Linked DNA regions of Homo sapiens. The protein of the gene in region 3 interacts with the protein of the main gene of each other region in a biochemical or structural test. Each region holds a gene or a part of one and is shown on either strand. Other genes may lie near its edges.

What was found.
Region 1: of the proteins of RB1 (region 3) and CDK6, one has a biochemical effect on the other in vitro, tested with the Homo sapiens proteins (9 studies listed by BioGRID and IntAct).
Region 2: the proteins of RB1 (region 3) and HDAC1 form a complex in vitro, tested with the Homo sapiens proteins (9 studies listed by BioGRID and IntAct).
Region 4: the proteins of RB1 (region 3) and EID1 form a complex in vitro, tested with the Homo sapiens proteins (5 studies listed by BioGRID).

What each region holds. Positions count from the first base shown.
Region 1 is NC_000007.14:92,721,558-92,728,586, reverse strand, and holds part of CDK6 (cyclin-dependent kinase 6), read left to right. Parts: intron 1-2,793; coding exon 2,794-2,961; intron 2,962-7,029. UniProt on the Homo sapiens protein: Serine/threonine-protein kinase involved in the control of the cell cycle and differentiation; promotes G1/S transition. Phosphorylates pRB/RB1 and NPM1.
Region 2 is NC_000001.11:32,316,077-32,323,105, forward strand, and holds part of HDAC1 (histone deacetylase 1), read left to right. Parts: intron 1-588; coding exon 589-706; intron 707-7,029. UniProt on the Homo sapiens protein: Histone deacetylase that catalyzes the deacetylation of lysine residues on the N-terminal part of the core histones (H2A, H2B, H3 and H4).
Region 3 is NC_000013.11:48,362,730-48,369,758, forward strand, and holds part of RB1 (retinoblastoma-associated protein), read left to right. Parts: intron 1-85; coding exon 86-228; intron 229-458; exon of another isoform or gene 459-2,164; coding exon 2,165-2,242; exon of another isoform or gene 2,243-2,247; intron 2,248-4,764; coding exon 4,765-4,874; intron 4,875-5,797; coding exon 5,798-5,875; intron 5,876-7,029. UniProt on the Homo sapiens protein: Tumor suppressor that is a key regulator of the G1/S transition of the cell cycle. The hypophosphorylated form binds transcription regulators of the E2F family, preventing transcription of E2F-responsive genes.
Region 4 is NC_000015.10:48,873,872-48,880,701, reverse strand, and holds EID1 (EP300-interacting inhibitor of differentiation 1), read right to left. Parts: upstream 2,569-6,830; 5' UTR 2,526-2,568; coding exon 1,962-2,525; 3' UTR 529-1,961; downstream 1-528. UniProt on the Homo sapiens protein: Interacts with RB1 and EP300 and acts as a repressor of MYOD1 transactivation. Inhibits EP300 and CBP histone acetyltransferase activity.

The DNA.
Region 1 (7,029 bases), on a different chromosome or scaffold from region 3:
AAGAACTAGACCTGTAGTATAAGTGCCAAAGTAACACAACTAAAACTGAATAATAATAATTATGGCATGTCCCAGGGTGAAAAACCATGCAGCCATTAAAAATCTCATTGTATAAAAAAAGTCATATTGCAGAATTTTATTAGTGGCAAAATGTTGATAATGAATTGTTACATGTTTTTAAAAGAGCTACAAAATAATGTGTACAGAATAATAACCACTTTTACTTAAATATACTTATACATCCAAATATAATAAAATACGTAATTTTTAAAAGACAGACTAAAAAGACACAAAAAAAGTTATATTAACAGTGAAGTTTTCTCTGTTCTCCAAGTAGTGGAATTTTTTAGTGATTTTTCTTCTTCTCTGGATTCTTAAAACATTTTATTAGTTTCTGCATTAAGCATGCATCTATACATCTTAGCAATTTTATAATTAAGAAAAACATAGTGTGTGTTATAACACAAATAAAAACGATGTGCATGTTTTTAAATTTGTATACTGCTAATTGGCTGCTAAAGTTGTTTGAACACTGCAGCATGAACCAAACAGATTTATTCTTTATACTGTTTTAAATGAGTGACACTTAACTGTATAGAGGCTAAAGATGATGAGCCAACAGGACATTACTTTAGGTTAGTCATGCTTTTTAAAATTCAGTGCTTACAAGTTGTGTGCATGTGTTTCCAATAAAGACTTATTTGCCAAAATGTTCCTTGAACATTTTGTGCTACATTTTCACACTCCTGTTTATTCATTACAACTTATTGGACCTGCAGTGCTTCTCAAGTCTTGAAGGGCTTTTCCTCCCCAATGCAGTCTTCTCCAGGGTTTTGGGAAGCTTAGAAGGTCACCCCTGCCAGTTCAGAATATTCACTCAGGGGGATCTCAGAAATGATTCTAGATCACTGCATACCCCCTCTAAGTGCTTTGTTCACACCGACCTTGTAGCAGTGGTCATGTTTTCTTTTAGTTGTTTGTGAATCAGTCTCCCCCAGAAATCAGGACACTTATCTTGGCAATAATCATCCTAATAATTACTGTTTGTCAAGTGCTTACCATATGCCAGAAACTGTACAAGCACTTGGCATACATTACTTCATTTAGCCCCCTTAATAGTAGGAAAAGTAATCGCTACTTTCTCCACTTTATAAAAGGAAAAACTAAGGCTTTGGTTTTGAACAAGCTAAAATATAAAGACAGAACTCCGAACTCTAAAGGAAGAACCAAAACCATAAACCAGTAACCAAATATACTGTTCTCGATGAGAGGATTCAGTGGTCCGGCCAATGATAAGTGTATCCTCACAGCCCCTTCCAGCTCTGAAATCCATGGTGGTACCCAGTCATTTTTCTAACCCTTGTATTAACAAAACAGCTCCATCCTCCCTTGTATACACCATTCTTATAATATTTGGGTCAGGGGAGTAGGTCACTCTTAATTTCCACACATTTCAGAGGATTATGACATCATGGCCAATGTCTTAGTTCCTACCTTCAGACACTGTCCCTGAGTATTAAATCTTGTGTATATTTGTATTGGTCCTAAAATTAGAAAAAGATCTGATATTGGTTTATATCCTGAATGATCCGCTCCTCCATACTGGTTAATAATAACAGTAATAAGCGCTGCCATTTACTGAATATTAACTATGGTGCTAAGTGCTTTACAATGATCCTATGATAAAGTGGGCTTTGTTACTGTCCCATTTTACAGACAGGGAAACTAAGCCTTAGAGAGGTTAAATGGCTTGCCTTATTTTACGTATTCATTTGTTCATTGATTTGATAAAGGAATACATTGGAGATTTGAATCGAGGTTTTCCAGACCCTAGTTTAAATCAAGACTCTGTTAATATTCTAAAACAGTTGATTAAGACTGGGCATGGTGGCTCACACCTGTAATCCCAGCACTTTGGGAGGCTGAGGCAGGAGAATAGCTTGAGCCCAAGAGTTTGAGACCAGCCTGGGCAACATAGTGAGATCGCATCTCTGCAAAAACTAAAAACATTAGCCTAGCATGGTGGCATGCACCTGTGGTCCCAGCTACTTGGGAGGCTGAGGCAGGAGGATCTCTTGAGCCAAGGAAGTCAAGTCTGCAGGGAGCCGTGATCACAGCACTGCACTCCAGCCTGGGCAACAGAGCAAGATCCTGTTTAAAAAAAAACAAACAGTTAATCAGCACTCTCTTGCTAGTATGACTTTGGGCTAATTAGTAGCCTACATCTGTGTATCAGTTTCTTGACCTGTAAAATGGTGTAATGATATTATTTACCTAAATGTTGTGGTGTGGATTAAATTATTTACTAAGTGGACAATGCTTAGAATAGTGCTTGATATATAGTGAGTGTTTAGTACTAGGTGCTATAAAATAATAATCACCATTAATAACAATATTATTATTCACTGGATTTTAATTGTTGAAATGGCACATTAAACAATAGAGAAGCAAAAAGTGTCCCCTCACGACCTCCTCCTTCCTCTCCCCAGCATGAGCCACTGAAACCAGTTTGGCAGATATCCTTCCAGAATGTTTCCTATTCCATCAAAAACTATTTTAAAATTGTCCTTTCATTAATAAAATACAGGTTGAGAGTGAAATTTTTTGCAGTGTTCTTGAAAGTGTGGGAGTGGAAAGGCAGGAAGGGAGACAATTCACTCATTCAGCCAATACCTGTCAAATGCCTGCCGCATGCCAAGCAGCCACAAAATGCTAAGGATTCGGCGTCCAGCATAGCAAATGCTCAACTTCCGTTTTGAGTGTTTACTGATTTTCTTTTTTTAATTTTATTAGGATATGATGTTTCAGCTTCTCCGAGGTCTGGACTTTCTTCATTCACACCGAGTAGTGCATCGCGATCTAAAACCACAGAACATTCTGGTGACCAGCAGCGGACAAATAAAACTCGCTGACTTCGGCCTTGCCCGCATCTATAGTTTCCAGATGGCTCTAACCTCAGTGGTGAGTGAGAGAGTGCTGTCCTTTTATTAAACTTATTTTTCCTATTTTGAATGACAGTCTGTCCCTCTTCCATGTCTCTAATGTTAGTACTGCCCATGACTAGTTGGTGGATAGAATGTCTTTGCCCATTTTTATATGGCAGTGGGTAGGCAGAAAGCATTCTGCTTACAGCTACAGTCACATCCAGCCTGGGCTTGTTGTGGACAGGATCCATTGCAGAAATAGCCTGTTGCATCTTAGCCACTGGACAGGAATCAGTTACAAGTTTCCAAATGCTTTCTGCCATAACCACTGTTTTCAGAGCTGTATGTACAATGCCTAGGGAACACACAGCTCAAGGTCAGGGAAGAAAGAGCACGAGCAACGTTGACCTGTCTGCAGCATCATGGTTTTGAGAAACAGAGTGCCTACACAGGTTTGTTAATGCACTCATCTGAAGCTATGGTGCCAGCTGTAAAGAAGAAATCAAATTCACAGTGAACTTGGATGATGCATGAACGTAGAGCACCGCCATGCCAGGTGAAGGCTCATATAACCCTGAATAGAAAGAGCGAACCCAACGGCCCTGTTTTGGCAAAAAATAACAGTTATGATACCCTGTTTCTTTTTGCCATTCAGCTGCAAAACCATAATAGCTATTGACATTGGTTAGCTTCTATTTCTCCATATAGTTCATTATTTCTCAGATGGATTTTTGTGAAATTCTGCACCCCAAATACAAAAAGAGCAGCCTGGAAATAGGTATTAATACCCTTCTCTTTGAAAGACCTGTTTTGCATACAGTAAATTCATGCCTTACGTACAGTAAATTAAATAAATAATATATAGCAAATTAAGTCTTAAGAAAAAGAATTTTAAAAAAGAAAATATCTTTGTATATTCAAAGAAATAAAAAAAAATAATCCGTATTGTCCATCTTTAGCCTCAAAGTGGTTCTCACATCAGGGACAGCATGGCCCTGTTGTTAAGTAATGATTGGCAACATCTTTGGTCATTCTGCACAGCAAAAAATTGTTTCCCTAAATTTCAGTAATACTACAGCTGATAAGTAGAAATTCAAGAGAGGAGTTAGAAATTCTCTGAGACAGATAACTTGCCTTAGGAAAAAATCCAATTTATAAAAGTGTTCCCCACCCCCTGCCCCCAGTCAAAATAGGGGTGCTACCACCTAGACACGTAAGACCAGTTACTTTCCAAACATTATAGACTTTTCCTAGGGCATCAGAACTTTTGATGCAGAGGATTCCTTGGAAAATGTTGCCATTGTTAGAAGATAAATCCTACTCATTTCCTCTTTGCCCAGCATACACCATTGCTTTAGAGGAGAAATGGCACGAGTTGATGTTTAAAAGATAGGCCTCAGCTTTGAGCACGGTCAAGCAAGCCCTTGTATTCTTATGTAATCACACCAGAAAGGGCTGAGTCTGTGTATTTCCCCAGTGGGAAGGGTGAGGTAGGCTTTGAGTTTCCCTAGGAAGTTGTTGCGCATGTTGTTTTGGGGCCCTGGGGAGAAGCTTGAATAGGCTTTGTGATCCAGAGAGTCATCAGGGGAGTAGATGGAAGGAACTTGTCTCCTTGGGTACGTTAATTGAAGGAAGGATAAGCTGTAACTGAGATGGACGCTTTTATTTTAATCCCCCCAAATGGGCACTAATAACCATAAATAAAAACAGGAAACCCAGTTGGTTTGTGTTTGATTTTTTTTTTTTTTTTTTGCTTATTAAATTTGAGCTTGTGCGTAACATCAATTAACATTCCATTCTTGCTGAAAGTTGATATGTTCAAACAGGAAAATGTAGACAAATTATTTCATAGAGGAAAAGGAGAAAGGCAGTCATAAATACACAATTTTTCAGTATCTAGTTTATACTGCATGCTTTATATTTCCTATAGTGACATAAGTAAAACATGTTAGCAGCTGAGAAGGATTCTAAAACAAAAATCAGACTTTATTGGAAAGAGTGACGGTTGGAATTTAATGGTAATAATAAAGGGTATGTTCCTACAGGGTACTGCATTTTAAAATTTCCCCACTCTTTTGTATTTTTCTATTTAAAGGAAATACCCATTTAATATAGTAATGCGTCGATTTATATACACATGGTGACATAAAAACTTGGAATCATAGTTTTTTAGACTGAACTGGTATGTATTTTTAGTGTCTCTTGAAGAGAAAAAGACTACACTCCTCTTCCTGGAAATACACATTTTTTAGTGGGTTATGTCATACAGGAACTGAGAATCAACTTAATTTGTGGAATGTTAAAGGAATTACAAGTTAACTGATTCAAAACTGACATCTTAAAACTATGAGAAATGCTAGTATTTTACTTACCTTGCAAAGCCTGACTCCAGAGGTACCCTTTCTAGTATCCCCTTCAGAAATTAATTTCTTTTTCCTCTCTGTTTCCAGAGTAATATTTTGGGTTTTTTTGTTTGTTTTTGTTTTTGAGACAGAGTTTCACTCTGTTGCCCAGGCTGGAGGGCAGTGGCCCTATCTCAGCTCACTGCAACCTCTGCCCTCCGAGTTCAAGCGATTCTCGTGTCTCAGCCTCCCAAGTAGCTGGGATTACAGGCCACCCCAGGCTAATTTTTGTATTTTTAGTAGAGGCAGGGTTTTGCCATGTTGGCCAGGCTGGTTTTGAACTCCTGACCTCAAGTAATCCGTCCTCCTCAGCCTCCCAAAGTGCTGGGATTACAGGCATAAGCCACTGTGCCCAGCCTATAATACTGTTTTCTGTCTTGTTTTTAGTTATTTGGGAATTTTATTTATCAGGCCATAAGTTCCTCGAAGGCAGATGCTCATCTTATTCAGCCCTAACACACAGTGCCTTGTTTATTTTGATAGGCACTCAGGAAATATTTTTCAGTGAATAAATTGACAAATGCTGACTTGCAGATATAAGCAGTTGAGTCATAACAGGAATAGAGAAGGAGCTATGTTATACATTTAATGGTCTCATTTGATGTGTGTCAATATTCCTCATAGCTACCTGGTAATATTAAGCTGAAGGACTTACTCCATATACCTTAAAATGGCTGAGTCCATTTTGCACCCTAGTCCTGATTGATTTATTGGCAGCACATATCTGTGTTCAAAATCATGAAAGCTATTAATACATGCTGTAGCTCAATCTCAAGTTAGGAGTGAAAAGTTGACGCAAACCCAAGTTCACAGTCTGTGTATTGTTTTTATCATAATCCTTTCTACTGCCTCAGGAACAAATTACATATATGAATTGAACTTCCTGTCCTGAACAGAAAGCTGTAGAGATAGAGGAATGTAGCATTATTGTAATTTTACTTATTTGAAGACTTTCTTTAGCCCCTTGTGTTTTGTTATTAAAGCAAGTTTTAGAAGAGGAGTCATATTCTTCTAAGATAATTAACATCCTCTAAATGAAAGAATGGGTGAATTACTAGACAACTTTTACTATCTATGTTAATATATATATATTTACATAATAAATGATATTTCTATTTGAACAATTATAAAAGCTTGTATTATTAGCTTCTTTCTGAAAACTTCAAAATGTTCTTACATATAGAACTTTGAGGGAGCAGTTAACAGTATTTATTTTCATTTTAAGTTCATGATCACCTGACAGATCCTGAAGTACTACTTCTCCTTAATTTCTGAGCCAGTATGCTCTATGCCAGTATTCAAGACAAGGCATCTTTTGGATTAATTGAGAAATTAGTTGTTCTAGACAGGTAAGCTTTCCAGGCATCTTAAGGTATAACCCTTTATATTATGATCTTTATTATTTTATTTTTCTAGTGAAAACAAGTTTCTTGTTAAGAAACACGAGTTTCATAAGTAGAATATACTTCATATGTTGGCCTTTGGTAGAAATTAATTTAGGACAGTAGCCTGGACCATAGTTGTAGCTGTAGGTGGTATGCAACATCGGGCTGAATGACTTATCTTGTCCTCATCTGATAAATTGAGGACTAATCAAAGAGTTAAATGTCTTTTGCCTAACTTTGCCAGGCTGCCTCCAACATGACATTCTGGTGTCTTTATGGGGTATTGGGTTCTTGCTGCTCAATATAGTGTCTTGTATG
Region 2 (7,029 bases), on a different chromosome or scaffold from region 3:
TCAAGACCATCCTAGCTAACACGGTGAAACCCTGTCTCTACTAAAAATACAAAAAAAATTAGCCGGGCGTGGTGGTGGGCGTCTGTAGTCCCAGCTACTTGGAAGGCTGAGGCAGGAGAATGGCGTGAAGCCGGGAGGCGGAGCTTGCAGTGAGCCGAGATTGCGCCACTGCACTCTAGCCTGGGAGACAGAGCGAGACTCCGTCTCAAAAAAAAAAAGTAATAATTTTGTAAAGCACCTTACAGTTTACAAAGAGATTTAACAACCTCTTCCAATTCTCTCAACTTCCCTGTGTGGTCTATGTTGTCCCTGTTTAGTAAATGAGGAAATGGAGGTTCAAGAGACAGTAACTTGCCTAAGCAACAGAGCTTGAGCTGCTGTAGGTCTTCTGATACTCTGTCTCCTTTGATAATCTTGTTTGCCTAGTTAGATTGTAAATTTCTTGAAGCCTGAATCTAACCAGTTATTTCTTTTTATTCTTTATAGCACCTAGCTCCATGCTGCGCAGGAAATATAAATATTCAAACTAGATTGACTGGACTGGCCGTGGTCAAAAATAACTTGCCCTTTCTCCCTTCTGCCCTCTAGCGCCCTCACAAAGCCAATGCTGAGGAGATGACCAAGTACCACAGCGATGACTACATTAAATTCTTGCGCTCCATCCGTCCAGATAACATGTCGGAGTACAGCAAGCAGATGCAGAGATGTAAGTCCATTCTGTTCCCTCACACTCTGAAGCCGCCAGTTGCATCTCCCTTTCCACTGTAGAGGCCCATTCTGCCGTCCTCGCACCTCCCATTCAGTGGACACCTGATTTCCCCTACCTCCTAAAGGTGCCAGAGTGCTTTTTCCCCTCAAGTCGGATTTTTCATGTTTCCTGATTTGTAAACGATAGAGGTAGTACTTTTTCTGGTTATGTTCACAACACTGTCCCAAGAGTACTGTAATTATTGTAGTGGAAAAAGCACTGACCTGGGACGGGGAGACAATAGATACAGTAAAATTTAACTCTAACTCTCAGCTGAGTGGGCAAGTCACTTCCCCTCAGATTCTTCTTTTGTAAAGTGGGCTGGGCCACATGATCTCTGATTTCTGTCCAACTGTAACTGTTTTGACTTAGTGGGTATTAATTGAGAATTTAGAGGCCACTCAGGACAGATTCTAGATGGTGTAATCTTTGAGATGAGGTGATGCTGCCCCTGATCCCTTGGACTTGAACTTCAGAGCAGGTCCCATCTTGGAAGCCACGCTTAGTTTGTAGGAATCGTGGGAATTATTTTAGCTGTGAGGGGGAAAAAAAAAGTATTCAAATTTGGGACAAAACTATCATACCTGACTTCCCCCTTGTGTTATTTTAGAAATTATCTCTTAGCACCTAAGACTTCATATAGTATAACAGCACTGTCCAGAAGAAGTTTTGATTAACTTATGACAGCTTATATGGAAGTGTCAGAAAATATGCGGCACTTGTTTGTTGCTGCTGACCACAAGGTAGTCTTACTCCCAAGGAAGAAAGTTATTTATAACTATTATTACAACTAATAATAACTGTACAGTGGTATTGATGGCAGAACCACAGAGACCTTCCTTGAAGCATTAAGCTTCTTTGCTACCGACAACTCCAGGAGCTGCCAGCTGCTGTGAGTGAGGTGTTTGCTCTCTGAATTGCAGGGTCTTATTTCCCTCCAAGATGAGGCAAATTCATGCCTTTCCTGTAGATGGCTTTAGAGGTTTCCATAACCCATTTAGGCCAAGGATCAGGCTCTACTCTCAGCACAGTGGGCTCTCACTAGAGGAGCAACTTGCTATTAAAGTAAGAAAATAAGCTTTCATGTCTTAGTTTGAATCCTTGGTTTCCTAGCCCCTCTGGTGTTATTTCCCGCCCCTGCCACTTTTTTTTGAGACAGAGTTTCGCTCTTGTTGCCCAGGCTGGAGTGCAATGGGGCGATCTCTACTCACCACAACCTCCGTCTCCCGGCTTCAAGCGATTATCCTGCCTCAGCCTCCTGAGTAGCTGGGATTACAGGGATGTGCCACCACGCCCGGCTAATTTTGTATTTTTAGGTTTCTCCATGTTAGTCAGGCTGGTCTCAAACTCCCGACCTCAGGTGATATGCCAGCCTCGGCTTCCCCAAGTGCTGGGATTATAGGCCTGAGCCACTGTGCCCGACCTGTTTTCCCTCTTTAAGAGGAAGACAGGACAGGCACAGCGGTTCATGCCTGTAATCCTAGCACTTTGGGAGCCCAAGGTGGGAGGATTGCTTGAGCCCAGCCAGGAGTTTGAGACCAGCCTGGGCAACATAGTGAGACCCTCATCTCTACAAAAAAATAAAAAAATTAGCTGGGCATGGCGGTGCACACCTGTGGTCCCAGCTACTCAGGAGGTTGAGGAGGGAGGATCTTTTGAGCCTGGAAGGTCGAGGCTGCAGTGAGCCATGATTGTACTACTGCACTCCAGCCTGGGCAACAGAGCGAGACCAAAAAAAAAAAGACATTAGTGCCTATTTCATAGTCAAGGATGGGGGAATAAGTGAAGATAATATATTTAAATATATATAATATGTCTACCCTCAATGAATTGCTTTTGCTATTTTTGCTATTGCATAATCACTTTTGCTATTATGACTTACTATTTTTATTATTTACAAACTTATCAAGGCAGACAAAATGCTATGCCCTGAGGAGTGTGCAGGTTCTGCTCTGGTGCGCCAATTTTTCCGAATCCAGCATTCTAAAGTTGTACATTAAAAAATTCAGTCTGGCTGGGTGTGGTGGCTTACGCCTGTAATCCCAGCAGTTTGGGAGGCTGAGGCAAGCAGATCACCTGGGGTCGGGAGTTTGAGACCAGCCTGGCCAACATAGTGAAACCCCATCTCTACTAAAAATACAAAAATTAGCTTGGTTTGGTGGTACATGCCTGTAATTCCAGCTACTCAGGAGGCTGAGGCAGGAGAATTGCTTGAACCCAGGAGGCAGAGGTTGCAGTGAGCCAAGATCGCGCCACTGCACTCCAGCCTGGGCGACAGAGCGAGACTCCGTCTCAAAAAAAAAAAATTCAGTCTGGGTGCCTATAGTCTCAGCTACTTAGGAGGCTGAAGCAGGAAGATTTCTTGAGCCCAGGAGTTCAAGGCCAGTCTGGGTAATATAGTGAGACCTGGTCTCTAAAAAAAATTTTTCTAATTAAAATAATTAGGTCTTGGATTTTTCTGTCATCAGAAATGGGGGCAGGAAGAATAAGCCTCTCTAAGAACTTCAGAGTACCTCACTGAGTTGATTTGTAGGGTTATGGAGGGTCAGAGTAGACAGAGACTTTAGATGTCACTTAACACAGTGCTTTATAACCTGGGGTATCTACCAAGACAGTAATGAGCCCTTTTTAAAAAAAGAATTATTTTTATTTTTATTCTTGTTTTTAGAGATGGGGTCTTGCTTTGTCATCCAGGGTACAGTACAGTGGCAAGATCATAGCTCACTGCAGCCTCAAATTCCTTAATCCTTAACTTGCCCTTTTAGAATATGTACCAATATCTAACCTAGGCGCTGGACATGGTAGCATGCACCTGTAATGCCAGTGCTTTGAAGGGCAAGGCAGGAGGGATAGCTTGAGGCCAGGAGTTCAAGACCAGCCTGGGCAGCATAGTGAGACCCCCATCTCTTATTTTATCTTAAAAAAATAAAAATAAAAAATTAGTTGTGTATGGTGGCACATGCCTGTGATTCTGGCTACTCAGGAGCCTGAGGCAGGAGGATCCCTTGAGCCCAGTTCAGGGCTGCATTGAGGTATGGTCTCATTTCGCCACCACACTCCAGCCTGGGCAACATAGCAAGAACTCGTCTCAATAAAAAAAAAACACACATGGCCAGGCGTGGTGGCTCATGCCTGTAATCCCAGCACTTTGGGAGGCCGAGGTGGGCGGATCACGAGGTCAGTACATCGAGACACCATCCTGGCTAACACGGTGAAACCCCGTCTCCACTAAAAATTTACAAAAAATTAGCCGGACGTGGTGGCAGGCGCTTGTGGTCCCAGCTACTCGGGAGGCTGAGGCACCAGAATGGTGTGAACCCGACAGGCGGAGCTTGCAGTGAGCCGAGATCACGCCACTGTACTCCAGCTTGGGCGACAGAGCGAGACTCCTTCTCAAAAAGAAAAAAAAAAAAACCCACACACACACAAAAACATCCCACACACCTAATCTAGGAAGTTATGCTTATGATAAGATCGAGTAAATCAGGTTTCCTTGCTTGTGGCTGAAATGTAATAAACCCTTTCTGGTCACTTTGAGAGCCTTGACCAGAAGTTCTGACCTAATATTTAGCAAGTGAAAATGGGAACACAAATAAATGCATTTAGGGGGCTTTTGGTGAAAACATGATAAAAGGGATTGGTAAAAAATTGGGAGACATTCTCATCCATTTTACAGACATGTAAACTTTCCCAGTCACACAGCAAGGTGATGGTAGAATGCAGAATGGAACTCTAGTCCCCCAATTCTGTAGTTTTAAAAAATATAGTGTATATAAAATATTTTAGATACACAGGCCAGGCAGGGTAGCTCATGCCTGTAATCCCAGCACTTTGGGAGGCTGAGGCAGGTGGATCACTTGAGGCCAGGAGTTTGAGACCAGCCTGGCCAGCGTGGTGAAACCCTGTCTCCACCAAAAGTACAAAAATTAGCCATGTGTGGTGGTATATGCCTGTAATCCCAGCTACTCGGGAGGCTGAGGCATGAGAATTGTTTGAACCTGGAGGGCAGAGGTTGCAGTGAGCCAAGATCGCGCCACTGCACTCCAGCCTGGGCGACAGAGCAAGACTCCATCTCAAAAAAAAAAAAAAAAAAAAAAAACAGAAAAAGAAAAAAACATATTTTAGACACACACAAAAAGCATCAAAAAATAATATAATGCACTTTGGGAGGCCGAGGCGGGCAGATCACGAGGTCAGGAGATCAAGACCATCCTGGCTAACACAGTGAAACCCCATCTCTACTAAAAATACAAAAAATTAGCCGGGTGTGGTGGTGGGTGCCTGTAGTCCCAGCTACTTGGGAGGCTGAGGCAGGAGAATGGTGTGAACCCAGGAGGCGGAGCTTGCAGTGAGCTGACATTGCGCCACTGCACTCCAGGCTGGGCAACAGAGCAAGACTCTGTCTCAAAAAAAAAAAAATAATAATAATAATATAATGAACATCCATGTGTGCCCAATACCCAGCCTGAGAAAGAAAACATTATCAATACAGTTGATGCCCCCTTGGGCATCTTTCCTTGATCACATACCCTTTCTCTCCCACTCCCCCAGCCCCCCACCCCATTACCAGCACTGCCAAGGTATAAGCACTATCCTGAGGTTAGTGTTTAATCTTCCCATCTCTTTGCAATGAGCATTTGACTGCCTTCTCTGCCTACGTCTGCTTCCACCTCTCACCCAGTATTGCTTCCCTTTAGTCTAAAGCTAGTGTGAGAATGAGAAAAGCGTTTATAGCAGAAAGAGAGAAAACCCATGGAAAAGTCTTCCCTACCCTCACAGATTAGCTCACATGAGTATCTGCTCTTCCATTTGCCCCCTTTCCATCTCTAATCACATAGCTTATTGACTAGGAATAAAAGGGCTGGTCATTTGAGCTACATGTTGGTTTGGTGCCTGAAGAAAAATATTTTTTTTTTTCTCACGTCCAAAACACCCATTCCTTCCCATGGAGGCTCCATATCCCAAATAAGAGTATAAACAAAGCTTTGGAAACGCAGGCAGGCCAAACTCTGTGCAGGAGGAAGTGGCCAGAGAGGGAAATCAGTTGCCAATGGATAAACAGCCGGGGCCCAGGGACCAAAGTTCTTATTTACACAGCCTCCCAGTGTTTACCCAGGAAGTGAGGAAGAGACCCACCCGCTGCACACTCCCTCATGCAGCCATGCTTCTTCCTCAGAGCACCGGATCTTGGCACCCTCCAAGTTTAGTGCAGAACCAGAGCTGGTAACTCTTGTGGTTATTGTAGATCTTGAGCTTCAACTGTGTCTTGAGATTTTACCAGCACAATCCAAACTGAGCTCTTCTGCTCTCACCCCAGGGCTGCTCCTTCCTCTACTTTTGGAAATCTTGATAACAGTGGGTACAGTAGAAGGCTGGGCAAGAGAATAAGTATGCAGCCCCACACCTCCTGCCTCTGACTTCCTGTAGCTCATTGATGTCTCAGCAGTTACTTTTTTTTTTTTTTTCTCCTGAGATGGAGTCTCGCCCTGTCACCCAGGCTGGAATGCAGGGGTGCAATCTTGGCTCACTGCAACCTCCACGTTTTGGGTTCAAGTGATTCTCCTGCCTCAGCCTCCTGAGTAGCTGGGATTACAGGCACATGCCTGGCTAATTTTTGTATTTTTAGTAGAGACGGGGTTTCTCCATGTTGGCCAGGCTAGTCTTGAACTCGTGACCTCAAGTGATCCACCTGCCTTGGCCTCCCAAAGTGCTGGGATTACAGGTGTGAGCCACCGCGCCCGGCCAGTAGTTACCTTTTCTGTAAGAGGAGATTTGGAGCTATAAAGTTCCTCTAGGTCTGTGAGTCTACAGCCTCCAGGTGTGCTTTCCTTCCTGTTTTCATTTCATTTGCCTTATTGTTTGCATATGTTTCCACATTATGTACTACTTGGTACTTTTACCCCATTAGGCCCGAAATAACTTTACTCCACTTGTCACTGTGAATGTAGCAGTAAGACACTGGGCTACGGGAGTCAAGACACCGGGACCCTGATTCTGGTTCTGCTACTGCCTGGTTTTATAACCTTGGGCAAATCACTTAACTTCTCGGTATCTGTTTGTTCCTCCGCACAGTGGGGTTGATATCTGGCTTGTCCAGCTCATAGAGTTGTTGTGAGGATCAAATGAGGTTGTATATGTGAAAGGACTTGGAAAAGGGCCGGGATATATTTTCACAGGCTTTTAAGACAGACAGGCTGGCTGGGCACGGTGGCTTATGCCTGTAATCCCAGCACTTTGGGAGGCCGAGGCGGGCGGATCACAGGGTCAGGAGTTTGAGACCA
Region 3 (7,029 bases):
TTTTGACCTAAGTTATAGTTAGAATACTTCATTATTTTATATGATGGATGTACAATTGTTCTTATCTAATTTACCACTTTTACAGAAACAGCTGTTATACCCATTAATGGTTCACCTCGAACACCCAGGCGAGGTCAGAACAGGAGTGCACGGATAGCAAAACAACTAGAAAATGATACAAGAATTATTGAAGTTCTCTGTAAAGAACATGAATGTAATATAGATGAGGTAATTTAACTTCATGATTTCTTTAAAACAGTTAAAGTAGATTTAGATGTAAGTTCTCCCTAACAATATTTACTTCTTTTGTTATGAGCATGTTTTTTTTGTAATTAGTGCTAACTCTTTTGCAGTAGCAAAATATTTAGAAAAAATTAATTCGTTATATTTAGTTACTTTGATTTTAAAGAGAGTAGCTCCCTCACTCTGGAATCACTGAAAAGTATATAATCAAGACAATAGTTTTCAAATGTAGTTTTTTTTTTTTTTTATTCCTCTGAGGTTACTGATACCCCTAATGTTTTAAAATACCCTGCCAAGGCTGGGCATGGTGGCTCACACCTGTAATCCCAGCTCTTTGGGAGGCCGAAGTGGGAGGATTTCTTGAGGCCAGGAGGTCTAGACCAGCCTGAACAACATAGCGAGACTCTGTCTCTACAAAATACATATTTAAAAAAATGAACTGGGCATGGTGGCATGTGCCTGTAGTCCCAGCTACTTGGAAGACTGAGGCAAAAGGATTGCTTGAGCCCAGAAGTTTGAGGTTACAGTGAGACATGATTGCACCACTGCACTCCAGCCCGGGCGCCAGAGTGAGACTATGTCTCCAAAAACGAACAAACAAACCAAAAAAGCCCTGCTTAGAAAACTCTAGTGCTCTAGTGTTTTAGTTTAGTGATAAGTGATACCAACATTAAATTTCTGTTTGGCCTTCTATAATTACTCTCTTTCTAAATATTACAGCACATAATGACTGCTGGAGAATACATATGAATTCCCAGGAATTACTTGTCTTGTTCATAGAATGTGGATGTTAGAAGGAATCTTACAAATAATGTATTCAATCTCCTTTTTATAATGAGTAAACAAGCTTCCAGGGACTGATAGCTTATTATTTACAGCGTCTACATTAGACTTTGGGATATCTGGTACTATTGCTTCTTTCCTTTTTACCATACAGTTTTTCTCATAGTTTGTTTTATTGTCCACAATCACTAACACCAGATAGCAGTAAAAAATGTTACATCTTTGAAATTTCTCTGTTAACTTTGGGAAGGAGTGAGAGTGTGGTCCTAAAATCTAGTTTAAGAAGTATTAGAATGATTTATCAAGATATATCATAGTTTTTGCACTATGGCTTACTAATTTCAACAAATATACAGTTGACTCTTGAACAACAGGTTTGAATTGCATGGGTCCGTTTATACACAGATATATTTAATTACATATATTAGAAAAAATTTTGGAGATTTGCAATAATTTGAAAAAATTTGTAGCAAACCGTGTAGCCTACAAATACAGAAAAAATTAAGAAAAAGGCATGTCTTGAATGTACAAAATATATGTAGATACTAGTCTATTTTATCATTTACTATACCATAAAATACATACAAAACTGTAGCTGCAGATGCCTGCTGTTTCAGGCGGACGATTTTTGTTAACAGATGACATAAACTTACTGTAAATGTATTTTGTCTTCTTACAATTTTCCTAATATTTTCTTTTCTCTATCTTTATCATAAGAAGATGATATATTTAGTATGTATATATAGTACATATACAAAATATATGTGAATTCAATCTTTATGTTATTGGTTGGCTTCCAGTCAACAGTAGGCTGTTAGTTAAATTTTGGGTACTCAAAAGTAATCGATAGGTCTGTAGTCTCAGCTACTTGGGAGGCTGAGGTGGAAGGATGGCTTGAGCCCAAGCATTTGAAGCTGTAATGCATGTGATTGCACCTGTGAATAGCCACTACACTTCAGCCTAGGCAATATAGAGAGACCCCTTCTCTAAGAAAATAATAAAAAATAAAAAAGTTATACACAGATTTTTTACTGCATGGGGGATTGACACCTCTAACTTACCCTGCATTGTTCAAGAGTCAAGAGATTAGATTTTGTTTTAAATTTTAATGATCATGTTGTAACTTCATCTTTTTCAGGTGAAAAATGTTTATTTCAAAAATTTTATACCTTTTATGAATTCTCTTGGACTTGTAACATCTAATGGACTTCCAGAGGTAATCTGAAAGGAAATTTAATAAAATATTAATGTTTTGAGACTGTGGAGGGAGGATAATTGTCTAACTTTCTTAGATCAATTTACTGTGTATCACATTTTTTTTTTGCCCAAGAAGAATCTAGCCAAGTAGAATTGTGGTGAAACTAACTTTTGTATAGTAACAAAAAGCTTTTGAGTATATAATCAAATGTATTAGCATCATTTTGTGATTTATACTAGAAATCAATCTTTATTGAATTTTTTCCAAAATCAAAGTATAGACTTTTAAACTTCTAAATACCATTAAATAGCTAAATTTTAATAGCTAAATATAAACCATTAAATTTGCTTTGGTAAGCCTCATTAAGCGTAGGAACCATGATTAATGCCATCAACATTATTGGCATTACTACATTGTGGAACATCTCTTTTGAGGATTTTTAAGAACTGCTTAATTGAAAATACAAATGTATTTGTTGAAATGACTGTGACTATTGCAGAAGTGTTTTACCTTAGTGATATTCCATCCATCTACCTGTTTTGTTTCGCATTTTGCTACAAATGTCTTTCCAATGAGAACAGAATAACTGAGAGCTTTGCATGGTAAGACGAAATATGTGGAGAAAAGGATGCTGTGATAGATGATGAAGAACAAAACCAGTGTTTTAGAAGACATAGTATTAGTCACTATGACCAAAAGGCATGAAATAAAATAGCTAGACTGCTAGTTCTGTAACCTGAATTGATAGCTAGTTTTTGAATTAATTTATTAATTCAACAAATATTTTTTGAATGCTTAATATATGTCAGGCACGTGCTAGATACTATGGATACAGAGATTTCACTCTCAGTCACTATCCTTAAAGTGCTAGTGGGAGAGGCTGACAAAGAAATAGAGCATTACAGGAGTCTACAAGAGTGTGAAAAAAGTATTCACAGGGTTCTGTGATATCTCAAAGGAGAGCTACCTAATCCAAACTAGGGCTGATAGGTTTTGTGGAAAATAGTTTAGAGGTGATGTGATTTCAAATCTGAGTAAGCATTACAGATATAGCATTTCCAAGGGTTGGACATTGTAGATTCAAAGGTGCAGTGATGTATGATAGTATGGTCTGATCAGTGAACTCTAAGTAATTCATTAAGGTTGGGATACAGGGCAGAACAATTAAAATATGGTACTGAAGAGGCAAGAAGGGACCAAATGTTATATTAATGAGTCTTGTTACCACTTTTGGTACCAAAAACTAGGCTGTTCATAACTTTAAAATCTGTTGTAGCAATCTTTTTTTCTCCTTTAAAAGGATTATAGTTTTAATATAAATCTTAAGAGTAATTTTACTTTTTCTCCAATATTTCACATAATATAGCCAATCAATAGATGACTGGTAATTAGTGCCTCAACTAAGGTAGGACAGGAACAATGATTAAACATAAGCATGGATTACTGTTCTATCTAATACATTTATGAAGATTAATGAAAAGTTTGCATTTAATTGGATTTCTTCCTATCACTCCTTTTAAAATGCAATTTTACTTCTCTGAGGTTGGAATCACTTTGGCGTTAAAAGTCACAGTAGAAGGCATGCCAATAGTTTTCTCTTGGGCATTGGTTTTTAAAGTATAATTAAAAAATTATGGATCAGAACTGATGAAAGATTTACAAATTCTAGCAATTGAAAAAGTATCTAAGATTGGGAATAAATTGTGCAAGTGTGTTAATTGAACTGATAAATTGAGCTAATTGTCTTGCCCAAGATACTTAACTGAAGGGTACTGGAGTGAACCAAAGGGTTTAGAAAACATTGGTAGAATATGTAATCAAGAGGATTTGCAACAATGTTTGAAAAAATATTTTATATTGATAAGCATAAAAGATTAAAAGCAGGCTGGGCGCGGTGGCTCACGCCTGTAATTCTAGTACTTTGGGAGGCCGAGGCAGGTGGATCACCTGAGGTCAGGAGTTCAAGACCAGCTTGGCCAACATGGCGAAACCCCGTCTCTACTAAAAATACAAAAATTAGCCGGGCATGGTAGCAGGTACCTATAATCCCAGCTACTCGGGAGGCTGAGGCAGGAAAGTTGCTTGAACCCCGGGGGCAGAGGTGGCAGTGAGCCGAGATTGTGCCACTGCACTCCAGCCTGGGCGAAAGAGCGAAACTCCATCTCAAAAAAAAAAAAAAAAAAAAGATTAAAAGTAAAGCATATATGGGATGTTTGGAAAATCTTGGCAGTTAAACAGTTATTATAATACCTATTTTTATCTTAGGTACTGTTTTGTAGCATTGGCTATCTTTGTCTACATAAAATTCTAATAAATATTTTCTATGCACGAAATAGACCTAAAATCAAAGTTGAACAAATGTTGCAATTTTCTGTACCTCACTTTTAGATAGACCTTATTTATATTGCATGCGAACTCAGTGTATATTACAAAATTAAATGTATATTATACAAAAATTCTTTAATGAAATCTGTGCCTCTGTGTGCTGAGAGATGTAATGACATGTAAAGGATAATTGTCAGTGACTTTTTTCTTTCAAGGTTGAAAATCTTTCTAAACGATACGAAGAAATTTATCTTAAAAATAAAGATCTAGATGCAAGATTATTTTTGGATCATGATAAAACTCTTCAGACTGATTCTATAGACAGGTATTGCACATGGTATATTTGATTGATTTGCTTTAGATATAGGTTGATACTGATATAGGTAGATTATATAGTCTTTAGCTTAGTGACCTTTAGATATCATTTATAACAAATTACTTTCAAATGTCTTTATACAAAGAAAAGTTTAACAGTATTTTAAGCATATAACTTATCTACAAATATAGATTTAATGTGAATTGTGTGTCCTATAACAGTTACCTTTTTGCAGTTAACTGAATATAATTTTTTAAAATGTGCACCAAAAGATAATGGCTAAAGTAATTAGTTTCTTCAAATAGTGGTCTCTACCTTATTTCTATCCTTTCATATACTATTGCCTGCCTGGTTTATTTAAAAAAGTTTATACAAAAGTGTAGTCTCTGTTATTATCATGTAGAAACCTAAAATTGGAATGGTTGAGAGTGATTGTTAAAATTTTTGACTGATCATAAGTAAAGTTAATTTTGTGTCTTTAGCATGAACTCTTTTAATATGAAACTGAAAATATGCGTAATTTAGAAGTTAAACACAGTAAAATGTTTTAAATTTTATTTAAGTGGAAATAAAGTTTTTAGAAGGAATAATGCATTGAAAAACTTGAGTTTTAATGCTTTTTAATACTGAACAACTTGGTTATCAATACCACCAGGGAGAAAGCATCTGACTTTCACTTTTAAAAAAAGACTTAATGATTGGTATACCTCTTTGTCATAAACATAATGGAAAGAGACCCACAATTAAAAAGAGTAGTGAAAAATATTTTATTTAAGCAGCAGCTGGGTCATCTATTTTCTATCCTATCTATTATTGAGTTATCATTTTATATGATTTTATGAGACAACAGAAGCATTATACTGCTTTTTTGATGCATAAAGCACAAATTGTAAATTTTCAGTATGTGAATGACTTCACTTATTGTTATTTAGTTTTGAAACACAGAGAACACCACGAAAAAGTAACCTTGATGAAGAGGTGAATGTAATTCCTCCACACACTCCAGTTAGGTATGAATTTTCCTACTTTTAATTATATTATAATTTTGTTATTCATGGCTTTATAGTGTTTCAGATTTGTTCACGTTTCTTTATGTATTCATACATACATGTAAGAAATATATATTGAAGGCCAGGTGTGGTGGATCACACCTGTAATCCCAGCACTTTGGGAGGCCAAGGCGGGCAGATCACCTGAGGTTAGGAGTTTGAGACCGGCCTGGCCAACATGGTGAAACCCCGTCTCTACTAGAAATACAAAAATTAGCTGGGGGTGGTGGTGTGTGCCTGTAATCCCAGCTGCTCGGGAGGCTGAGGCAGGAGAATTGCTTGAACCCGGGAGGCGGAGGTTGCAGAGAGCTGAGATCGTGCCATTGCACTTCAGCCTGGGTGACAAGAGCGAAACTCCGTCTCAAAAAAAAAATGTGTATATATAATCTTTGTGTGCTGGGCATTTTACTGGTTGCTGAAGATATGGTTATTGGACCTAGTTTTGTCTGTTCTTAAAGAACATAACCTAAAATAGGAATGTGTTCCATTTCAGTAAATAAAAAAGAAAAAATTAAAGTATCACTATTTGATCTGCATGCAACCTTAAAGGATTAGAACTATTTTTTATGTCTTTTTCCTCACTCATTTCCCACATCAAAATCTGTTATCAAGGCTTGTTGAATAATCTACCTCCAAAATATTTCCTGAGTGCATCTACTTTTCTCCATTTCTGCTCTCACAACTCTTGTCCAAGACATTGTTCTCTTTCTCTTGGATTTTTTGCAGTAGCCTACTACCTGATCTTGCTCCTTCTGGTCTCATCATTGTTCCTGTCTCCTCACCATCAAAGATATTCTCCATAGAGCCCCCAGAATTTCTCCTAGAAATGTAAATCAGTTACATTCACCTTGCTGTTAAACCCACTGACTGCTTCCCATTGCAATTGGTATACAGTGCAAATTCCTTAACAATGCCTAAAAGATCTTATATGGTCTGGTTTCTGTTGCCTCTCCAACCTCATCTTGTTTTCTTTCTCACTCTGTGTTAGCCACACTTTGGCCTTCTCTGTTTCTTGGGCTTTCCAAGTTTTTTGAAAACCCTCGTACTTGATATTCCCTCTTCTTGAAATTTCCTCCTTTTCTTTCCATGGATTACCAACTGCTACTCTTCATTCA
Region 4 (6,830 bases), on a different chromosome or scaffold from region 3:
TTTAAGACTGAAAAACAACCAAGTCAATTGCAGAGCCCAGGTTTTTCTCCCCAAGATGGGCCTTCAGATGGAATAGTGTTTCCCACCCCCACCTCTTTGCCCTACTCAGTCCCAGAGAAAAACAGAATCACAACCTTCTAGTTTGTGGACCTCAGATTTTTTTTTCCAAGAGTTTATCTTTCCTAGTAAAGATAAACTTTCCTGGTAAAGATAAAGATCTGGAGGTAAATACAACCAGCCAGTTTATTGTGCACTAGCATACCCCCACCCACACTAATTTACATCATCCATGCAATTAATTACCTATCCACACTCATCTGACCGTAGCTGCACGCTAATTGAGAAAGCAGTGGAAGAGGCAGTAGGATTAAGTCTAAGCACCAACATTTTACTTCCACCATCTCTCCCTCCTAACCCAGCTAGTGTCTGAGCAATTCTGATCAGCCTTGTCACAGTCCTATCTTTTACAGATCTCTCTCCCCAAAAGACAGGATGACCATAAAATAAATAAGGCTCTGAATTGTCCTGTTGCATTGGATATTCGTTCTTTACTGCTATAATGGAGCAGAAGCATTTGGAACATTTTTACTGATCATGATAAAACCTGCTGATACACTTATTTTGCTGAACCTAGCCTTCTGATGTAATCATTACTCTCCTAGAACTTCAGCATCTTAGTAAGGTAACCACGGCAACATACTCATTGATAGGGCAGGTTTTCCCAGACCAGCAAATTCTTATAGGCAAAAACTTAATTTACAAAGTTTAATTTCCAGAAATTAATTTGTGAATTAGATAGCTGAAGCTGGATCATTTTCCCTTAATACTGGTTAACACATACAATAGAAAGTAGTATACAGAGAAAGTATGTATGCAATACTATTAGCCAAACAAAATACACAGAACAAGAAATTTTATTATCTCCAATGCTGGTGCATGACAAATAACAAGCTTAATTAGAGGAGGAGACAGAGGGAAACTTCAGATACCAAGGTAATTTCTGGGCAGGTTTAAAACCTTTAAAAGTTGATAGAATAACTGTTCATAAAGTCTTTTTAGATATAGCGCTTTTTACTTGACAACTTTTATTAACAGTTCTTACAATATGAAGTTCAACTAAAGTCCTTCATCTGTCAAGTTAAAACAGCAAGCAAAACAAAATTTCTCTAGTATATAACAGCATAAGCAATGGTTTGTTTTCTTTGTACATTCACACACATTTAGTGTCTAGATTTGAAACTTTTTAATTAAGGATGTCTTAATTTTTGACTTTTAAAAATGGTTATGACAATGGATTTTCTTGATTTATAGATCACAGTGGCTTTATAAATGATCAAGATACATGTACAAACAAAATTTCAGATGCTCTTGGAAACACATCTTAAGATACAAAGCACACGTGATACATATTTGAGTTTACTCATCCATTTATCTTACACTGAAAATGTAGCCTTTGATAACTGTGGCTTGACTAGATCACAAAATAGAATTTTCCAAGTTTTCTTAAGCTTTCAGTCCAAATAACTCAAAAGATATGTGTCCTAGTTGGATACATTTTTTTCTCATTATATAATTAGTATCAGTGGGCTTTTGTATTGGCAGTTTGTCTTGGTCATGACTTATTCTTGCAAAACCATCTTTACAGCAAACAAATATGAAAGATATTTTCCCCAATGCAAGGAAAATAATCTGGATCAATAACAAAGTCAAAGCCATAGGTGTTTTAGGACGTTCTTGATAATTGATTTCAACGGTCTTAAAATCTTTTTTCTTTTTCTTTAATGATTCTCTTCCTTTTTCACAACTGTGCAGTCACTGTCCTATTGTGTTCTATTCTGAAAAACAAATTTTTTTGAAGGTCAAGTTTTTCAATGGCACAAAACTATTTGGAATGAACCCAAAAGATAGCGGAAAGTTGGGTCCCTCCTCAAGTAGTTTCCTCCTCTTTTAACAGCATCTAACTACTCTCTATCAATAATCTCATCACAGCCGAGTTCTTCGGTCAGACGATTGACAACCATCAGTGAAAAAAGCTCTTCGATAAAAGCTAACTGATCAAACGGGGTCTTCTCATAATGCATCTGAAACCCGCCATCCAGGGCTGGTTCTCTTGTTCTCAGAAACATCTTGTCGGCTTCTTCAAGAGCGGCTGATACTCTGTAGCCGGCACCACTGAGCTGCTCCTCTTCGGGATAGTCGTAGTCGTCCTCCCAGTCATCAAATTCCTCGCCCTCGTCCTCGCTCTCGAAGTCTGCGCCCGCCACCTGGCCTGGCTGCTCCCCAGCGTTGGGCCCGTTAGCAAGGCTCCGTTTCCCCTCTGGCGCCGCCATTGGCTGGGCCTCCTCCTCCTCCATTGGGCCTTCCTCCTCGAGCTGTTGGGCCCCGCTGCGGGAGGGACGCAGGGATAGCTCCCGGCTCCCGCTGCCTACCTCCATCTGCGGAAGGTCACCCTCGCCAGGCATCACATCCATCTGCAGGTCACTGCTCTCTTCATACAGCTCGGACAACTCAGCCATTTCCGACATTGTGCAAACCGCTCAACCTCTAGGAAAAAGCTTCCAGCAAGACAGATGCTGCGCGGCCGTGCGTTCGTGCGCGTGCGCAAAGGCTGCGCGCTTGCGTAACCCCGCGCGCAGGCGTGGTCCTCAGGTACCGCCTCCTACTTGGCGCGCCACTGTGGTTGGAGTAGCTCAGTGTTTTCTCCGGGGTGTTGGCGTCGCCTTTTGAGCTACGTTTCCATCGATTCGAACTTCGTATCTAGGGACCCTGCATGCAAGAGCGTAACAGTTTCTGTGTTACTTAACCCTACTGCTGCTTGTAATGCTGCAAACCGGAAAATAACCTTACATGGCCTTCGTAACATTTAATGCTCCTTCCCCCCCTTCCTCTTCCCCTGGGCAATTTACCGATGTACTGATGACTTGTAAATCCACGTCTCCAAACCAGACAACATCCATAACCACAGATCAGCATATTAAGAACTAATCCATTTTGTCCTTTTAGTGTTTTCATTTAAAAAGTTAAATTCACAAACAACAGATATATTGTACTTTTTTTTTTTTTAGTTATAGTGAAGAAATACTTGGTCCCATTTCTTTTCGCCTGGGAGGTATCTTTCCACTATTAGCAATGCGGTGTGTATTCTTTGAATTCTTTTTATTTGCATTTACATGTATCTTTATGTATTGACAGCAAAATACTATTTTGTGTGTTTTTTAAAAACATGTTTTACCTGTTTTTACCTTCAACTTAAAAGCCTCAGGTTTTAAGTTGTATATACTTATATGAATTATATGACTGTGTATACTTACAGGATTCAAGCACATTTCATTTATTCTGCACTTTATTTCTATTATTATTACATTATAGTTATGTAGAATTATACAACTCACCATAATGTAGAATCAATGGGAGCCCTGAGCTTGTTTTCCTGCAACTAGATGGTCCCATCTGGGGGTGATGAGACACAGTGACACCCGAGGTGTGTTCCTTATGTCCGGTCTATTCTGTAATCTCATTTTGGTTGCTGTTACTGTGGAAAATCCTGCCTCACAAAGATAGGATGTTGAAAATGGAAGGAGGCTTTTCAGTACTTTTGTGGCAATCTCAGGATGTTCCGCCTTGACTTTAATCGAGAACGTATGGAGATTTGAAGTTGTCTCAAACATACTTTTAAGGCCACCGTCATTTGCAATATCAAGCAGTTGATCCTCTTCTAGCGTGGACAAAGTGGATTCACCTGGCTTATTCACAAATGGGTCACAGATCCATTCCGTCTTTTGTGGATGAGAAGTGTGATGGTTAATACTGAGTGTCAACTTGATTGGATTGAAGGATACAAGTATTGATCATTGGTGTGTCTGTGAGGGTGTTGCCAAAGGAGATTAACATTTGAGTCAGTGGGCTGCGAAAGGCAGACCCACCCTTAATCTGGTTGGGCACAATCTAATCAGCTGCCAGCTTGGCTAGAATATAAGCAGGCAGAAAAATGTGAAAAGAGAGACTGGCCTAGCCTCCCAGCCTAAATCTTTCTCCTGTGTTGGATGCTTCCTGCCCTCGAACATTGGATTCCCAAGTTCTTCAGTTTCAGAACTCGGACTGGCTCTCCTCTCTCCTTAGCCTGCAGACAGCCTATTGTAGGACCTTGTGATCATGTGAGTTAATACTTAGTGAACTCCCCTTTACATATATATACATATATATGTGTATATGTATGTGTGTATGTGTATATACGTGTGTGTGTGTGTGTATATATATATGTATATATTCCATTAGTTCTGTGCTTCTAGAGAACCATGACTAATACAGGAAGTAATGCTCAAAATATTTTGAAAGCTGAGATAGGTGATCATGCACCAGCTGGGAGAAAGAAGACCCTGGCTCAGTCTCTTTCAAAATCTCTGCTAATGTTTGAAATGTCAGAAATCCCAGTGTTCATTTGTCACCCGCATGATTCCAGTTTGGCTTTGAATGCAGCCACCTTATCTGCCAAGTTGAACACAGTTGTTGTTCGTCCCTGAAGTGACAGAGTTCACTGAGCAGGTTGAATATGTCACACAAGTAAGCAAGTTTTTTTGTGACCCATTCTGTGTCACTGAAATGTGCCGCCAATGGTGACTGTTTTTCTACAAAGAAATCTCTGAAGCAGCTCTCTTAACTCAAAAACTCTGGCCAGTGATCTACCTTTAGAAAGCCATCTCACTTCTGTGTGTAAGAGAAGACGTGTGTGCTCTGCATCCATCTCCTCACAGAGCTGCACAAACAGATGTGAGTTAAGGGCATGTATAATATGGTTGATAATTTTAATCACATACTGCAAAATGTTGTTAAGTTCAGGTGACATTTTCTGACTAGCCATCATTTCTCTATGGATGACATGGTGCATAGACTCACATTCAGAAGCGACCTCTTTGACCTGAGTAGTGAAACCAAAATGCCATCCAGTCATGGCAGCTGCTCCACCCATGCATATACCGATGCAAAATGACTGATTCCACTTTCCTGATATGTAATCATTCAAAGACTTGAATAGTTCTGCATCTGTGGTGCTGGTTGGCAACAAAAGTGCATATAGCATATCCTCATTCACATCCTCCTGCAAAATATATCACACACAAAAAAGCATTGTTCCTTTCTAACAATTGTGCCTCATTATCCTCTGATATTTCATCAGTTCATCTAGTTGTGGTGCTAGCCAAAAGAGGAACACATGCCACCTTTTGAACTGCAGCCTCTCCTGAAAGTTCATGACAAATGTCCTTAGAAGCAGGCAGGATCAACTCTTCATCAATAGTAAAGGACTTCTTAGCTTTAGCAATGTGGTTAGCCACTAAGAATGATGCTCTCAGTGCAAACACATCTGATGAAGTGGTGGCCTTCAATAATTTCTTCTATTCTTTGTGTTCACATTGTTTTCTTTTGAAAAACTCCAAAGGCTTAGTATTAATGCAGGGTGTGTGGTCTCCATGTGACAAAGCAGTTTAGAAGGCTTCATGGCTTTGTTAGATAGCCACTTGCTACATGTTATGCAAAGCAAGCTTGGATAATGTGAATCACCTGTTGTAATGAACTGGTATTTTAAGTAGGACTCTTGATATTTTCTTTTAAATGCAGCTTTATTTTTGTTGGCAGTCTTAAAGTCTTCTGCAGTCTCATCACTGGATCTTTCCCCCTTTTCAAAGAACCTCTCCAGTGAAGTTTGTTTTTTACTCATTTTGGCTAGGGTTAGCTTATGGGCTTACCAAAACTGTGACCGAGAAAGTGCATGGTGCAGGAAAGAGACATGGATGGGAGTGGTAAATAAAATAATGGGCGGGTCAGGAACAAACTAAAATAGTCGGATTCAGACTTAAAGCCTGCCATCAGCTGCAGCTGTACAACTGAAGTACATCAACTCACTTGCCACTATGTAGCCTGCCACCAGATGCAACTTAAGTGTCACTTGCTACTTACCGATAGGGTTTTGATATGAGTCTGCAAGCAATTGATTTATTATGGTCTCTGTGCAGTCAAACCTCTCTGCTATTGTTAATCTGTATTTGCAGCCACTCCCCAGCACTAGCGTCACCACCTCAGCTCTACCTCAGGTCATCAAGCATTAGATTCTCATAAGGAGCATGCAACCTAGATCCCTCGTATGTGTAGTTCACAATAGGGTTCATTCTCCTATGAGAATCTAATGTCGCCACTGATCTGACAGGAGGCAGAACTCAGACAGTAATGTGAGCAACGGGGAGCAGCAGTACATACACATGAAGCTTCTCTTGCTCATCCACTGCTCACCTCCTCTGCAGCCCGGTTCCTAACAGGCCACGGACTGGTACTTGGTCTCTGGCCAGGGGAGTCGGGAGCCCCTGCTCTAGTTCTTCTCACCATGGACACATGATTTCTGGCTGACTGCTGCTTGGTGTCAGATTTATCATAGACTAAAAGTTCTTAAATACATGAGTCTATTTTTAGACTTTGAATTCTTGTGACATTTTTACAGTTTTATATCTTGCTGTTTGATCAGGAATATTTTGTCTTTGTTCTTTAAAAAACTGCGCTAACTCTTCTTGTGCATTTATTCTTTCATATGAATTTAGGAGCATCTTGAATGTGATATTATAATATTTCTTATTATCTTATAAGGGAATTCTTATGCATTTGTTCTTTTAAAATTTGCTTTAGCTGTTCTTGCACATTTATTCTTCCATATGAATTTTAGAAGCATTTTTATTGGAATTGCATGGAATTTATAAATTAATCTGGGGTAGGATTGACACCTTTGTAATACCATCTTCTCATCCATGAGAGTGATATATATCTTTCTACTTGTTCAGATCTTATTT